Linked DNA regions of Homo sapiens: region 1 is linked to region 2. The links come from fine-mapping of genetic effects on gene expression. A gene starts in region 2. The other region holds a variant in brackets. All regions are shown on one strand. Distances are from middle to middle. Region 1 overlaps ROR1 (receptor tyrosine kinase like orphan receptor 1). Region 2 holds the start of ROR1 (receptor tyrosine kinase like orphan receptor 1).

The links.
Region 1: its variant is fine-mapped to the expression of ROR1 in cerebellar hemisphere (GTEx, PIP above 0.99). The same link has a PIP of 0.9 or more in cerebellum.

Annotation. Positions count from the first base shown.
Region 1 is chr1:63,914,381-63,919,756 of GRCh38, forward strand. All of the region lies in intron 1 of ROR1 (receptor tyrosine kinase like orphan receptor 1), which reads left to right. Among named protein-coding and RNA genes, the nearest start is that of ROR1, 140 kb to the left of the region's middle. RefSeq lists a silencer at 3,682-3,751. The variant C/A (reference allele first, on the strand shown) is at 3,338.
Region 2 is chr1:63,771,250-63,776,625 of GRCh38, forward strand. It overlaps ROR1 (receptor tyrosine kinase like orphan receptor 1), which reads left to right and starts at 2,768. Exons shown (of 9, transcript NM_005012.4): 1 at 2,768-3,259. The coding sequence starts at 3,169. RefSeq lists silencers at 2,835-2,884, 3,669-3,963 and an enhancer at 3,829-4,392.

The DNA of each region.
Region 1 (5,376 bases), 140 kb after region 2:
TTCACTTCCTAGGGAGAGGAAGGCAGGAGGAGAGAGAAAGTAGCATGCTGCAGGGTGCTGCTGAGTTCAGGCTGTGGCTGTCCCCAGTATTTCAGCTCATGCCGGTAATCAGCAGGCCTCCAGGAGGAAGAGTTGGGAGCTGTTATGCAAAGCTGAGAACCTGTAAGTCGAGGTAGGAAGAAGACAGTTCAAATCCCTTCGGATGACTCTTGGGCAGTCTAAAGTCTGATCCCAATTTATCTTTCCAGATTGTTCTATTAACCTGGCCAAACACCAAATCTTTTGTGTACACATGACCGTTGGAACCCTCTTCTCTGCTTGGCAAACTCTAAACCCTCCTTCAAGAACCAGTTCAGAAGTGATCAGTGTAATCAGCCATTTTAAAAAATTGGTTTAAATCTGTACCCCTCCACCCCCATTTCTGCTTCATCTCTCCCCAAGGCAGAATCAGTCTCTCTTCTCTGTTGCTTCCATGCACCTTGGCTGATGGACACTGTTAGAATTGATGCTCACAGCTTGGGAGAGCAGATGGGGTCTGGGAGAGCCTCCTGAGTTCACTGGCACAGGATCATACAAGACAATATGTGTGAAAGTCAGTGGTTAATTGCAAAGCACTGTACCACTGTGTTCATAGCTACCCTTTATTGAATACATCGTGCTTGGTATTTTCTCATCAAATCCTCACAACAACCATTTGAAGGTAGGTATTATAGTCATCTTTCTTTTAAACATACAAAAACTGAGTCTCTAAGAGGTTAAGAAGTGGGCTGCCCATGGTCACATTAAATAGTAAGTGGCAAAGTTACATTAAACCCAGTTCTGACTCCACCATCTCAACCCATGTCACCATTTTTCTGGGCCTGTGGGCAATGCAGACGTGAGGGAGACCTGGTCTTTGCTGTTAAAGCTTCTAATCTGGGATGGAGATAAGGCAGTCACTGCCCCCTGGTGTATAGTCTAAGGTGGGATACAGGCTCTAAGAAGGGTGCACATAAAAAGTGTTTGGAGAGCAATAAAGAGGCTTTGTGGAGAGAGCTTTCCTTCCCTGCACCTTGAGGAGTGGGCAGGGTTTTTATAGCAGACTTAGAGAATAGGGAATGGCAGAAACTACATGAATAAATGCTTAGTGGAGTATAAGAAGAGTGCAATGGAGAGAAGGGTATGAGACTAAGGCTATCTTAATCATATGACTATTACCAAGGACTTAGAGCCCACAACATCTCCCACCCTCTGCCCCCTATCCTTGGTCTTTTATGATGGGAGATGGTTGCTAGCCTGCATTTAGGGATAGCTATGCTTATACAGAACTTCTCACACAGAGTAGTACTGCTTCCCTGGGTTTGGAAGCATTTTTGATTTTGCCAGAAAGATTGGCAGGGGGTGGGGTGGGGTGGATGCATGTGAAGCCGGGGGGGTGTGCTACAATTGGCACTTGGTGCTCCCTGAACCAAATATACTAAATATCTTGTAATGGATGCATCAGTCCTACCCAGGGAATAATTCTCCCACTCCGGAGACCCAGTATCTCCTGTGTGGGATCCCCCATCTACAAGTATACATGTAAACTTTCCCCTGGGCCACTGCAGTGTCCCTCTGGGAAACATGAATCTGTTCCTGGCACCTCTCTAGACACTCTAGAATGGTTCAGTTGTTTTATCCCTATACATACTTGACCTCCAGAACATGCTATTTATGCTACTCCCAAAGCTTATAGCTGAAAACAAACATTTCTACCCTATTTTTCTTCCCTTGAAATATCCTCTGGCTCTGAGGTCATTTAAGGAATAGGCAGCCCTTGCAGATTTTTGTAAGTTTCCTCTTCGCATGAACAATAACTGCAAAATGATCCATCTGATCTGGCTACCATTGTTGAAGGCAAGAGGATACAAAGAGCATTCATCGGGCCAGGCGCCTTCTCAAGAAGGGCTCATCAAGGTGGAAAACCAAGTGGCACATACTTGTGGAGAAAGTTTGAAAGGAGTAGGGGTTAAGGGAGTGGTAGGGATTGAGGAAAAGCCTAATAACATGGTAATAGGAGATAACAGACTACAAAACCCCTGTGAAACCAGGAATAAAAGAGCCCCATGCTTCACAAATACAAGATTGAATGAGTTTCATGTTTAATGTAAATACACCTGCCATTTGTTCTCTGAAGCACTGGTTACAGGTTTTGAGATAAAATAGAGTTTTGAACATTGTGCCAGTGTAATTTGCCTTTGCCCAGGCATAGACTGTACACTTTGTTCCTGAACAGTCCTTAGAGACAACATAGTGCTCTGATCAGCTCAAAGGTCCCACCTCCTGATGTGAGACCTCTGCTTCCACCTGGCCTGCATCTGAGACTCCTTGGCTATTGACAGAGTAGGGGGAAGTGAGACAGTGGCCCAGGGTGCCAGTGATCTCATGGCTAAAGTGGATCATTTTACTCTCCTGCATTGAAGTTACTCACTGCATTAAGGGTAAAGAGCAAAACCCTCAATTTCTCCTATAAAGCCCTGGCCTACCTTTTGCTCAAGTCTCACCATTCTCTCTGCAGTTGCTCAGGCCTACTTTCAGTTCCTAGACTGTTACTGTGCAGGGTCCAGCCTCAGGGCCTTTGCTGTCCTCTGCGTGTGAGCCCTTCTGCTCCCTTCCCCTTCAGCTTTCAATTCTTCTTTCCTTAAGTCAACATTACATATTATTTCTTTACGGACACTGTCCCTGAACCCAACCTCACAGCAGAAGACATCAGGTGACCTCTTACATTGGTCACTGGGCACCATACTTTCCCTGTGGCTCCTGTCCCAGTTTATAATTATACATTTGTGTGATTACCTGATGAATGTCTCCTCTTCCACTGGACTGTGAATTCCATGAGGGTAATTCTGGCACTCAGTCTAAGCCTGACACCTGGCAGGTACTCAAAGGGTATTTGTTTAAGAAATTAATTATTAAATGTATCACAGATACATCAGAAGATGCAAATAAGCAAACAGGAAGAAAAAAAGCAATCACAGTTCTACAACCAAAGAAAAGCCACTTTCCATTTTTTGGCATATACTTTAAAATTTTTTTTCTATTCTATAAAATAATATGATTTTCCCTTAATAGTATGGTAAACAGGATTAAGCATCCACTAAATTTAATTTGCCATCATTTTATTCAACCAATCCCCTATTGCTAGACTCAAATCAGATTTGTATGATCTATTGTTTCATGGAAACCGATGCAAAATTATAAAAAATTAAATCATTTTTGCTTCTCAATCAGCATTTTACTTTATCCAAAAGGAGTATATGATGAGAAATCAAGAGTGACTGTCCAGGAAAATGGAGATGTGGCAGATGGAGCTGCAGAC[C/A]ACGTGGGGAGAGCCCTGGCCACAGGAAATGACTGTGGTTGGTAGAGGGGAAAGTATTGGACAGTTAAGGAGTTGCCACCTGCCCCTGGTGGAGGCAAATGTTGTTTTGTGGAAAGCACGTGGCATAATGACAGGGCCTCTGCAGGCTCAGTGATGTGGGTGAGCAAAATGGCTGTCTTGGGATTATCTAGGAGCTTCTGAAGGCAGTAGGGTGGTGGCTAATTTCTTAATGCTGCTCTCCCATCCTAGTGATGGGCAGAGAGGATGAGAAAGCCAGCTCTGGGGAGACAACTGTTGTTCCAAAGTGAGGAGTCACCACTACCTGCCATCTCGCAGACTCTTGTCTAGTGCCCCCTTGAGGCCATGCTTGTTGTTAGCCCTGACTCGGGTGCCCCGGCACCTGCCGTAAACCAAGCTAGACCCAGATTGCGTTTGGGTGCCTGGAACAGGAGAAGTTTTAGGAATTTATGTTAGAGATTCACCATGTTGTACTTTCTGCCAAAGCGTCCCTCCCTGAGTCAGAATAGTGGAAGGCTGACTATATTCCACCCAGCACGACGCACTGAATGCTTGGTATGAGCAGCACATCATACGACAGGAATCTCACAACAAAGCAATGAAGTAGTTACCACTATGATCTCCACCTTATAGATGAAGTACCTGAGACTTGGAAAGTGTCAAAACCAGAATTTGAACGCAGGTCTGTCTGAGCCCAGACCCTTTGCTTTTTAAACCACTCTTTATGAAGAATCTCAGTAGGTTCTTAAGAACGGGGCGTGGTACTCTCTAGAGCGTTTGTGACCCAACACTATGAATTGAAACAAGGCAAGCTCTGTGCTCCCATTTGGGGAAAGTTAATATTTCACATGCTCTCGAGAATTTAGGAGCTTGGTAAAAACTTACTATTAAACAGGGCTTTTCTTTAATTCCTTTTGTTTAAAAATTTTCTTGTGAAACACTCTATATACTGTGCCTCCCTCTGAGACGTCAGTGGTGCCAGAGACCGTTAGGGAGTTTGTGTAAATAGAGAGAGGGCCAAATGCTGCCCACACAAGTAGTGAGGCATGAGGCTGAGTGCGTGGAACAGTTCCATAGCTAGCCCTAGGCTCTGAAGAGTGTCCTGAGACCTCATCTGGGTCCCAAAATCGGTGGGCAGTGCTGTCTCCGCGAGACAATGACCAGCATGAGGAAATACCTTTAACCATTCATCTTTTTAAAAAGATAAGTTTGCTAAGCAAATAAAACCAGTTAGCCTTGAAAGTTCAGTATTAATGAATGTTAATGCATATCTTGAGATTTTCTAAAAAACTGACAAATCTTCCAAAAGACAGGAATATCTAGAGGGTAAATAACAGGACTAAAATGCTTTGAAACATCTTTGAAATGATGGTTCAATGCACAGGGTCAAAGGGTAGGACTGGTTCTCTTCAAGCATTTTAAAAAAATGCCTCATTTTTATTTAACATTGTTTTGGGAAGGAGTGCATTATATTGACACATTGAGAAAAAAATTCCTTTTTGTTTTTCTAAAACTAATAGGAGCTTAGGCATTATGATTAAGGACCAAAAAGAGCCAATGCCGATGAATGCCCTCTTTCTTCAGCTGTAAAATTTAATGGCCGCTACCGAGAGGTTTTTCTTTTAATCAGCAAAAAATTTATTTTGTCCTTGACATTTTATGCCAAAAATCAGCCCAGAGAATGTGTTTTATAGCCTGGGCTGAATTCCCCTAAAGGTAGAGTTTTCCTATGAGCAGTGTTCATTGAATTGGCTTTTTTTTTTTTTTTTTGCACTAGATAACTATATTAATTTATTAGATAATCTTTTTATTGTTTCAGCAAGATAGAGGAAACTTACACAGAGACAGCAGAGCATAATGGGTAAGCATCTGGGTTCTTTTGGAAGACGAGATATTGGTTTCCATTGGCCTTGCTACTTCCTGTCTTTCTGACCTTGAGTAAATTACTCTTCCAGAGCCTGTTTCTTTGTTCAATTGGGGATCATAATAGTGCCGCCGTCATCATGCTGTCATGATTAATG
Region 2 (5,376 bases):
ATTATATATATTTTACCTCTTTTACTTTTTTAAACAGGAAAAGCCTTTTCTAACACCCCCCCACCCCAGCATTTTTTTTTTTTTTTTGAGATGGAGTCTTGCTCTGTTGCCCAGGCTAGAGTGCAGTGACGCTATATCCACTCACTGCAACCTCTGCCTCTCAGGCTCAAGTAATTCTCATGCCTCAGCCTCCCGAGTAGCAGGGATTACAGGTGTGTCACCACGTCTGGCTAATATTTTGTATTTTTTTGTAGAGATGGAGTTTCACCATGTTGGCCAGGACGGTCTCGAACTCCTGATCTCAAGCAATTCACCCACCTTGGCCTCCCAAAGTGTTGGGATTACAGGCATGAGCAACCGTGCCAGGCCATTGCTAACCTTTTCTTTGGAAACTTGTGTGCTATAGCTAAACTGAAGGAATCTGGGATGATTTGATGATGGTCCTTACCCAGGTCTGGACTGGTAGGTCTAGGTCCTAGTTTTGGCTCTGGCCAGCTTTGGGCAAGGCGGTTTCACTCTCCTAAGTCCCACATGTCTCCTGTATAAAATGTTGAGGGGGGTGTACTAGTTAATTTCCAAAGCCCTTTCCAGGTCTCACATTCCTTATGTCTATGATTCTGTGATTAAGTTCCTGGAAGTTTAAGTACTGATAAAAGTGCCATTAAGTTCTGTATACTCAGCACTAGCAGCTGTCTGTTACCTAAGATACCTGGGCCTAGGAGTTATAGGGTGGGGGCTGGGGGCAGGGTGGGTGGATGAGAAAGGCTCCTTGTCTGACAACTGTGTGTATTGACTGTAGACAACAGAGGACTGCCCAGCACTGTGCAGTGTAACTGAGTATCCTCTGATTTCTGGGCTGTGATATACTAAGACTGACCATCAAAGACTGTTTCCCAACAAGAGAACCTTGTGCAGTAAGTTCCTCAGGCAAGAAGCGAGATAATTGGGACAGGATTGAATAGATCTCAGGCAGAGAAACTTGGGGGACAGATCAATGTAGGTAATGAACTGGTTGACCCAAGGCCTCTCTGTCTATCATTTTTTGACCTCAGGTCAGAGCGATAGAAAGGGGGAAAACTACCGACACAGCTCCTGCCATGAAGTCCTGGAGAAGAATAAGTGACTGTTTGTCCCGCATGGGTTAGTCATTCACCTGCCTGAAGGCAAAGGGCTGGGAGTCTGGAGTCCATGACCTGCTGGGACATACTTTGGGCTGCATTTTTTCCCCCTTCTAATGTCTCAGCTCTCAGGGATCTGCTTTTCCTGGTGCCAAGGAGTATGGATGAAATTTTGTCCCTCCTCCATGCACCCCTATAAAACAAATATGATGAGAAATTAATATTTTCCAAATGGTGACCTAACCTTTGTTCATTAATTGAGCTCCTATTGCATTCCAGGTACTGTTAGAGGCCAGCAAGATACCTAGATGATTGAGACAGAGTCCTCGCCCTCCATGAAGTGACTGTTCATTTTAAAACCCTAAAGCTGGGTTCTTAGAGGCTACTGCAACAGCAACAACTCCCGAGTGAGTGCTTATCATGTGCCAGGCTCTGGTTACAGGCTTTAACTCTCTCAGTGGAAACAGCCTGAGTGCTGGCTTGGCTACCCCATGTCTGTGAGACTGTGGGCAAGTCATTTACTTTCCCTTTGAGTTTCAATTTCTAAAACTGTAATATGGGGATAATATATGTAAAACAGCTAAGAAGTATATACTTTTAATGACTCTTTTTAGTGTCAATGGAGGATTTGTGAGCAAATGCATATAAAACACAAGGCAAACAGGAGGTATTTAGTAAGTGGCCACGTGATTATTGAGAGACTATGGGCTTCTTCCTGTTCCTCCAGAGCAAGACTGACAGGTGTCCTATTACCCTTGCATCTTCAGAGCCTAGAGCACAGCCCTGAAAACAGCAGGCGCTCACCACTTTTTATGATCAAAGGCAGTCTCTACAGGGAAAGTCAAATCATTATGGGTATTTATGAATTACAAAATCCATAAAGTTAAACCAGGAGAAATGGACAAAAACACACTCATTGTAGAGGTCTTTAATGATCCCTTGGCTCATGGCAGAGCAGCTAGACAAAAAACAAACAAACAAACAAACATGCAAAGATTCAGAAGGCCTGAAAAAATAATGAATACAAAGAAGATAAATCGATACAGTATTCTATCTTCACATTCGGAAGACAAAAACACCTTTCAAAAAACCATGGGACATTGGCAAAAATAACCACAGATAATCCTCAATAAATCTTGCCAGGAGGCAGTACAGATGACATTGAATTCAGTGAGACTACAAATTAAAGACAAAAAGGCGAAGTATAAATTACTTGTGTAAGAACTCTCTCAACTCTTGGGTCCAAGAAGAAAGCAAAAGGGAAATTGTATGATAGCAATAAATGTGCCATTACCCAGAGTCACACAGCTAACAGTGACACAGCTGAGGCTGCTAGAACCTGGGTCTACTGTCGTCCAGCCACGAACTGGCTTGAGATCCCGGATAAGTCTCTCTGAGCCTCGGTTTCCCCTTCTGTCAAGTAGCCTCGAAGGTCCCCGGCGCTCGGTTCGGTGGCGAGTTTGAGGAGTGTGGGGGAGGGGAGGGGAGGGAGCGTGCCCGAGACGCGGGAGCCGCGACCGCTTTCTGCGAAGTCGGGGAGGGTGCGGGCGTTGAGAGGCTGCAGCAGAGGGCGCTGGGTCGCCAGCCTGGGCCGCGTCTCCCATTGGTCGGGGCTGGGGCGCTGGGCTGGAGAGTTGGTGGAAAGTGACAAGTTGAGCGAGAGAGGGAGCGTGGAGAGCTGGAGCAGCCGCCACCGCCGCCGCCGAGGGAGCCCCGGGACGGCAGCCCCTGGGCGCAGGGTGCGCTGTTCTCGGAGTCCGACCCAGGGCGACTCACGCCCACTGGTGCGACCCGGACAGCCTGGGACTGACCCGCCGGCCCAGGCGAGGCTGCAGCCAGAGGGCTGGGAAGGGATCGCGCTCGCGGCATCCAGAGGCGGCCAGGCGGAGGCGAGGGAGCAGGTTAGAGGGACAAAGAGCTTTGCAGACGTCCCCGGCGTCCTGCGAGCGCCAGCGGCCGGGACGAGGCGGCCGGGAGCCCGGGAAGAGCCCGTGGATGTTCTGCGCGCGGCCTGGGAGCCGCCGCCGCCGCCGCCTCAGCGAGAGGAGGAATGCACCGGCCGCGCCGCCGCGGGACGCGCCCGCCGCTCCTGGCGCTGCTGGCCGCGCTGCTGCTGGCCGCACGCGGGGCTGCTGCCCAAGGTAAGAGGCGCCCGCCGGCCCCCGCCCGCCCAGACCCCCTGACCCGTGGCCACCCTTCCGCCGTCCAGCCGGGCGCGGGACACGCAGGAAGCGCCGCGCTGGCTCCGGGGCGCGTCCGGCCACCCGCCACGGGGCTCGCCGGCGCCGCCAGGCCAGGGTTTGCCCCGGAGCCCCGCCAGGCCAGGGTTTGCCCCGGAGCCCCGCGGCGGGCCGGGGCGCGCCCAGGGACTCGTTCCTCGGTGCGCAGCAGCGATTGTCAGCGCTGACAGGAAGCGTGGAGGGGTTTGAGGGTCCTGGGGGTGATCGGGGCACTTCTGTGCAGGGCGTCCCCCCTTGTCTCCCTGGACCTCTAGCGCGCCCCAGCCGGTGTTCAGGCAAGTCTATCCTGCCCCCAAGTTGCGAGCCGGCCCGGAAGGCGCGGTCCAGGAGGGAGTTTGGATTTTCAGTGGTGCTCGCCAGAGCCCAGGCGGCTCGCGGATCGACGCAAACAAAAGCCCTGTCCTCCTGGGGCTCCGGCGGCCTCGCATCGCCACCGCCCCCGGCCCTCCGGCCCTCCCGAGAGTCATCATAGAGGCCAAAACTTGTGCGCCGCTGCAGCCGCTGCCACTTTGTGCAAAATGTGCTGTCAGAGGCGGCCTGCGGCTCCAAAGTGCTTTGGGTGTGCACGCGCGCGCGCGCGCGTGTGTGTGTGCGTGTTACAAACAAGAGGGGGAAAAGCCATCTAATGCATATTTGATTTTGGTAATCTCTAAAGACAATCGCAACAGTTAGAGAAAGACTTCACCGCAAGCCGGAGCGTCTTAGTTCGCTGCGGGAAGCTGGGGTCCTTGCTGCGTCTGAGCCGGTACACAATGAGAGGGAAGAGCCCGGCTGAGCCTGTGGAGACAACCGATTCATTCTTTGGAGGTTGGAGGGGGAAAGTTGATTAAAGTCTCCGGGGTCTCGGGCCTCACTTTTAACATGCATCCCTTGAGGGGGTGAGGAGCCTTTGGATTCTGCCCTCCCCCACTCCCAGCCCTAAACCTGAGCGGATAAATAGATCTCTGCTCTTTTATCATGCATCTTTCATTTTTAAGTTAGCACTGTGTTTAGGAAAAGAAAAAGTTCTGCGCTACTTAGCAGTTGAGAGGAAAAAGATGTATTCACTACATAGACTACGAATGCAGAATTAGTTTTTACTAAAAGTTAGCTGACTTTCTTGGTAGAAAACACACTCTGGAAGGAAGTTGTGTGAAATTTTGATTTCTTAGAGATGGTTTTTGGAAGCTAGAGTAGCATTTTCTGAGGATGATTTCTGAAACGGATCCTATAATGTGGTCGTGCTAATCTGAAAGCTCCTGGGGGTAAATAGAGCTCCTAATTGTAATTAAGATGTGCATCAGCAGGGAGTGCACCTTCCTGATGAAAAATCCTAATGAAATGTAAACAGCTTGGTCACATAGATGTTTTGCTTGGTGATGCCAAACATCTGGCCTTGCGCCACAACACCTGGGTGAAAAGTAAAAATGGGCCATGCTGCCTAAGTAATGTAAACATCCTTCTCAAGTTGGGTTGCCCAGCAAATTGAGGTGGAGATAAGCAGGGTGATTTTAACTAAGGTGGGACTCCTGGCTTGGGGCTTTGGTTAATTCAGTTATTTCCCCTGTGGACTCCTTTACTTTGTACTTCACCTTTCAACAATAGTTGCTTTTAGATCATAGCCCCTTGTGGGGGTGGGGGTCACTTACCTTTAAATACATGTCCCTGCATTGATTTTGCTCACTGTAAACACCCTTCTTATCAGCAGCCACCCCAATTCTGTCTCCTTTAACTGTTTACAGCCTTTTAGAGTTGTTTAAAAAAGGTATTGCCTATTCCATTGTAGCAGGAGGAGCCACAGACAAAACTCCTCAGACACCCAGTGAGCAATTCCTGTCCCTTTTAAGGGCTCACAACTCTAAGGGGGTCCACGTGAGAGGGTCATGATGGGTACATGACTGGGGGCTGCATGCACTGGTAATCAGAACGAAACAGAACAGGATAGGGATTTTTACACTGTCTTTCCATACAATGTCTGGAATCTATAGATAACATAACCAGTTATGTCAGGGGTCGATCTTTAAGTACCAGGCTTAGGT